Homo sapiens: one gene and its partner. The protein of the gene in region 1 interacts with the protein of each later gene in a pairwise test. Each region holds a gene or a part of one and is shown on either strand. Other genes may lie near its edges.

Evidence for each region. Proteins that work in one complex are often made in the same cells at the same time.
Region 2: the proteins of FAR1 (region 1) and DHRS4 come close enough for resonance energy transfer, tested with the Homo sapiens proteins (one large-scale study listed by BioGRID).

Annotation. Positions count from the first base shown.
Region 1 is NC_000011.10:13,730,245-13,732,993, forward strand, and holds the end of FAR1 (fatty acyl-CoA reductase 1), read left to right. Parts: 3' UTR 1-2,102; downstream 2,103-2,749. UniProt on the Homo sapiens protein: Catalyzes the reduction of saturated and unsaturated C16 or C18 fatty acyl-CoA to fatty alcohols. It plays an essential role in the production of ether lipids/plasmalogens which synthesis requires fatty alcohols.
Region 2 is NC_000014.9:23,960,268-23,963,926, forward strand, and holds part of DHRS4 (dehydrogenase/reductase SDR family member 4), read left to right. Parts: intron 1-3,659. UniProt on the Homo sapiens protein: NADPH-dependent oxidoreductase which catalyzes the reduction of a variety of compounds bearing carbonyl groups including ketosteroids, alpha-dicarbonyl compounds, aldehydes, aromatic ketones and quinones.

The DNA of each region.
Region 1 (2,749 bases):
AAATGCAATGTATAAAAAGTTTATTTTGCTATTGTGAAAAACTAAATGTAAAGGAAATCACCTACTTTCATGCAGGTGTATAATCTTGAAAAGGAAAAATGCTTCCATGTTGAAGCCAGATTTTCTGTAGTAAAACTTTTAAATATTATTTTAAAAGAAATATGTATATAAATATCTCTATATTCTTTGGAATGATACTAAAGTCTCTGGTCTAGGACCATACCTTATATAAAGGTATAAGAGACCATGACAATGTCTGAAAATGGAATAGATAATGATGCCTTTTATTTAAAGTGGCCCACATAATATACATTGAGTACTCCATCTCTCCAAATGTATTTCCATAATGTGTTGAAAACATGCTAACATTTGTATGATTTTTATACTTCTGCCGAATAGACTTAGAATCAGATGAATTGTCTGTGTGTCTTGCAAAAGAGTTGGGGACAACTTGGGCAGGCCTATGAAGTGCATAGGGAGTGTATGTCTTCTGAATGGTTTTATTGTTCTTGTAATCTAGCTTAAAGAAATGTTAACTGGGAGGGTGCTGAGGCCACTCACTGCATTAATTTTGTGTGTTTAGAGTTCTGTTGTCAAAAGAAAACTAATGAATAAATTAGTTTGTCATTCTAGAATTTAAAGTTCTAAGATTAGTATAAAGAGTATATAGATTGTTAATCCCCACCAGCTAGACTTTGAACTTAAGTCAGACTTAAAGATTTGAGAAATTATTTGTGTCATTTACTAGACGTGATTTTTAGTTCTGTTTGATTATATTTCCTACACAAACTTCTTATTTAACAGGATAGCCTACTAAATTAAATGTTTCTTATTTCACTTAACTCATTTGATTAAACTGTATTCTAAAACATTTGGGGTTTTTCCCCCTATTCAGTTTTAATCTTGGAATATGCATTTGTAAATTGTGATGTCATTGAGACTATATTTATATTTGACTTGGCAACATTAACATGTCCTAAGACTTAGTGCAGAGAAGCTTGGCAGTACGTTCTTTGACTTAAGGATGGCATAAAATAATCATTTTTGAACCTGTGTAATAAAGCTTGAAAGCAGGGAAAAGAATTTCCTTTTCCCCCTTTTTTGTGTTGTCTATAGGAATTAACTTGGGATTGTTTTGTGGGTTTTTGTTTGTTTTAAATGTAAATTGAGAATCTTTTATAAGAAATAAAAGCATTATTGGGTGCCTTTGTTTGTAAACCAAAAAGTAATAAATGAATCCCTATATTTCCATTATAGTATTTATTGTATTTTTATGTTCTGAAAATTACCCATGGAACAATATGCTTAGGATTACAGGAAGCAGTCCTTACTTACACTTCTTGTCTGTTTTAGGTGTACTTGTTAATTCTTATGTCCTAATTTTATTTAATTCTGAGTTCCTTACACAGCATTTTAGGGAAAGAATACAGGCAGGATGACACTTTGTGTTAAAGTGTTATTTTTATGTATTACCTGGAATGAGGCAGGTTTTTTTCTGTTTTCTAAAAAGAGTAACCAAGATACCTCCAGGGTGTCATTGGGTTCCAGCTGCTCTCCTCCACATTGAATGATATCTTGTTAATTTATAGGCACATTTGTGGTAATTTATATGTCTATAGAGTAAGTATAAGAGATAATTCATTAGTAATAGGAATTAACTGACCCCTTTTGGATGGGGGAGAGCATCAGGCTGGGGTCAGGTAAGTGTAAATGGCCTTCTGAGCATGCTCTTCTAGGCTGACTCCCAGCCCTGACTTGAAACCATTAGCGCTAACTTGCTCTGTTTTGAGAAAAACTTTCCAAACTTTTGCATGAGAAACTAGAAAAAGGAATGTATGCCACGTAACTGGATTACAGAAATGAGTTAATTGTCTCTGTGATAAAAAAAAAAAATGAAATATTTTCTTATTGAATTAATATTTTTGTCTTGAAGCATTTTCTAGTGATAGAATGTATTTGTCTTTTTTCCTGGTGGTACCCTCTTAGCATATATCTTTGCTATCCTTAAGATCCTAAACAAATCATCTTTGTCAGTTAAGTATAGTTGCGCAAAAATTGTTAAATCCTTTGTCTTTATTAAAGAAAAATTTGAGTAACATTAAGTTTGATGTGCTCCTTTGCAAGTTGATGTCTCTAAAATTCATTTATTTAGAAAAACATGAAGTGGTAAGTATAAGTTTAATGTCTTTACCGTGGGCCTGAACTCAGAGAAATAAGGATATAATTGTTTTTTGGCCTGAGATCACAGATGATAGCTATGATACCTGTAATTTTATACAAGGGGGAAGGGAGACAATCAAGATTTTTCTGAATTCATTTGTTTAAAACAAAGTTAACATTCCTAGTTATTGTCTTCAAAATACTTTTCTCCTCTAGACATTTAATTTTCATTTTTAAAGTTCCATGAAGTTGAATTAGGTGTCTTCCAAAGATGCTTTGGAGGCAGAATTCCTTTATTTTCTGCTGTTGTACAGTAAATTCTTTCTCTCTCATATAAATCTAGAGAGCTTCCTTTCACTTGTTTTGAGCAAGGTGTAACTAGAAAGTGTTAGGTTGAGCCGTATAAAAATGCTAATATGTCTTTGACCTGTAAGAAATTTCATATGGCTCAGTCTAGTATTATAGCTGCCTTTTTTTCTTTTGTTTCTAACAAACACACCTGAACCTAAACAGATGGGTGTAGTTTTATTAAAGTAGTCATCCAGATTGTTTATCAGTATTTAGTTGTTTGACATTTAATACCTAACTT
Region 2 (3,659 bases), on another chromosome or scaffold:
TTTCCCTGGCATGCTCTTCTGCCTTGTTGATTTCCAACAGAGACGTAGGCAGCTAATATGCCAACAACTACAACACTTAATTTACACACCCACCTGTCCCCTTTTCAGCTGACAAAAAGTAATTATTTTTTACGAGTTGGGAAATATTAAATGCTGCTCCTTATTTAAAATACTAATTCTGGTGAAATGACCAGTTGCCACTTTATAACATACATCCTTTAAAAAAATAAAATAAAAACCTATATTATTTTCTTCTTAACTGCAATGTCAAGAAAATCTGAGATCCAGATGTCTAAATTCAAGTGGTAGAATATTGGGTTTTATGTGAAAGTGTATAATTACATTATATTCGTAATATATTTCACACACACTCTTTAATTACAAAGCTTTAATTAAAATATTTGTCTTTGTTTATTAAGGTTAATATTCCCACATGATTGGGAAATGCTAATTTTTATGATCTCCCATGGTTCTGCGTTTTACACTGATGTTGTATTAGTCTGTTTTGCATTGCTATAAAGGAATATCTGAGCTGGGCAATTTATAAAGAAAAGAAGTTTGTTTTGGCTTACGATACTGCAGACTGTACAAGAAGCATGGTGCCAGTATCTGCTTCTGATGAGGCCTCAGGAAGCTTACAATCATGGCAGAAGGAAAAAGGGAGCAAGTGTGTCACATGGCAAGACAGGAAGCAAGAGAGAGATACCAGTCTCTTTTAAACAACTAGTTCTGGCATGAAGTAATAGAGTGAGAACTCACTCACTGCCACAGGGAGGGCACCAAGCCATTCATAAGGGATCCACCCTCATGACCCAAACACCTCACACCAGGCCCCACCTGGAACACTGGTGATCACATTTCAACATGGGACTTAGAGGGGACAAACTTACCAACTATATCAGATGTCATCAAAATTTCTCAACACTAAAGTATCAGGTTGCCAAAATACTATGATTTATTTACCAGTGTTTCATACACATAAAGACCAAACTGCCAAAATGTTCTTCAGTGAGCTAGTTTTTGATTCTAGTTTGAGCTAGTTTGAGAGAAGGCTGGGCAACACAGCGAGACCTTTTCTCTATATTAAAAACAACAACAACAACAATGACAACAAAACCTTCCTTCTTAGGAACTATCATCAAAATAACTTCTCTTTCTTAAACCGTCTTTTCTTCAAAACTACCCAGAGATTTGCTGCTAACCATTTAAGTTTGGCTTCTTTCTTTCTTTTTTTAGACAGACTCTTGCTCTGTCTTTTTTCCTTTTTTTTTTTTTTTCCCTCGCTGTGTCATTGAGGCTAGAGGGCTGTGGTGTGATCTCAGCTCACTGCAACCTCAGCCTCCCAGGTTCAAGCGATTCTTGTGCCTCAGCCTCCCAAGTACCTGGGACTACAGGCATGTGCCATCATGCCTGGCTAATTTTTTGTATTGAGATGCGGTTTCACTGTGTTGCTCAGGCTGGTCTCAAATTCCTGGCCTCAACTGATCCCCACACCTCAGCCCCCCAAAATATTGGGATTGCAGGCATGAGCCACCACACACAGCCAGATTCTGATAGTCTTTAAAATAGAGGAGCATCATTCATGAACAGTCTGAATAGAGACCATATGAAAGTCAGTTTTAAACTAAGTACAGGCACGCCTCAGAGATATTGTGGGTCTGGTTCCAGGCCACCACACAATAAAGTGAATATTATAATAAAGTGAGTCACATGAATTTTTTGGTTTCCCAGTGCATATAAAAGTTAGGTTTACATTATAATGATCATCTAATGGAAGTCTATTAACTGAGCAATAGCATTATGTTTTAAAATATATATACGTATCTTAATTTTAAAATACTTTATTGCTAAAAAAATGCTGACAATCATCTGAGCCTTTACAACTTGTAATCTTTTTGCTGGTGGAGGATCTTGCCTCAACATTGATGGTGGCTGACTTAGGGTGGTGTTGCTGAAGGCTGGGGTGGCTGTGGCAGTTTTTTCAAATAAGACAGCAGTGAAGTTTGCCACATCAGTTGACTCTTCCTTTCACAAGAGATTTCTCTGTAGCATGCAATCCTGTTTGATAGCATTTACCCACAGTAGAACTTCTTTCAAAATTGGAGTCAATCCTATCAAACTCTACCACTGCTTACTCTACTAAGTACCTATAATATTCTGAATCCCGTGTTGTGATTTCAACAATATTCATGGCATCTTCACCAGAAATAGATTCCATCCCAAGAAACCACTTTCTTTGCTTATCCGTAAGAACCAGCTCCTCAGCCATCTACATTTTATCGTGAGATTGTAGCAATTCAGTCCCATCTTCCAGCTCCGCTTCTAGTTCTCTTGCTATTTCCACCACATCTGCAGTTCCTTCCTCTGATGCAGTCTTGAACCCTTCCACGTCATCCATGAGGGTTGGAATCAACTTCTTCCAGACTCCTGTTAATGTAGATATTTTGACCTCCTCCCATGAATCACAAATATTCTTAATGGCATCTAAAATGGTGCATCCTTTACAGAAGGTTTTCAGTTAACTTTGCCGAGATCCATCAGAGGAATCACTATCCATGGCAGCTATAGCCTTACAAAATGTATTTCTTAAATAATAAGTCTTGGAAGTCAGAATTACCCCCGATCCATGGGCTGCAGAATGGATGTTGTGTTAGCAGGCATGAAAACAACATTAATCTCCTTGTACATCTCCATCAGAGCTTTTGAGTGACCAGGTGCATTGTCAATGAGCAGTAACAGTTTGAAAGGAATCTTTTTCTGAGCAGTAGCTATCAACGGTGAGCTTAAAATATTCAGTAAACCATGCTATAAACAGATGTGCTGTTATTCAGGCTTTGTTGTTCCATTTGCAGAGCACAGGCAGAGTAGATTTAGCGTAAATCTGAGGGCCCTAGAATTTTCAGAATGGTAAATGAGCATTGGCTTCAACTTAAAGTCACTGGCTGCATTAGCCCCTAACAAGAGAATAAGCCTGTCCTTTGAAGTTTTGAAGCCAGGCATTGACTTCTCCTCTCTAGCTATTAAAGCCCTACATGGCATCTTCTTCCACTAGAAGGTTGTTTCATCTACATTGAAAATCTGTTGTTTGCTGTAGCCACCTTCATCAATGATCTTAGCTAGATCTTCTGGATAACTGGCTGCAGCTTCTACATCAGCACTCGCTGCTTCATCTTGCACTTTTATGTTACAGAGGTGGCTTCTTAAACCTCATGAACCAACCACTGCTAGCTTCCAACTTTTCCGGAGCTTCTTCACCTCTCTCAGCCTTCAAAGAATTAAAAATTAGGGCCTTTTACTGATTAGGCTTTGGCTTAAGGGAATGTTGTGGCTAGTTTGATCTTCTGTCCAGAACATAAGAACTTTCTCTCCATATTAACAATAAACCTCTTTTGCTTTCTTATCATTTATATGTTCAGAGAAGTAGCACTTTTAATTTCCTTCAAGAATTTTTCCTTTGCATTCACAATTTGGCTAACTGGTGCACATGGTCTAACTTTCAGCCTGCCTCAGCTTTCAACATGCCTTCCTCACTAAGCTTAATTGTTTCTAGCTTTTGATTTAAAGTGAAAGATGTGTGACTCTTCCTTTTGCTTAAACACTTACAAGCCATTGTAGGGTTAATAGTTGGCCTAATTTCAATGTAAATGTGTCTCAGGGAA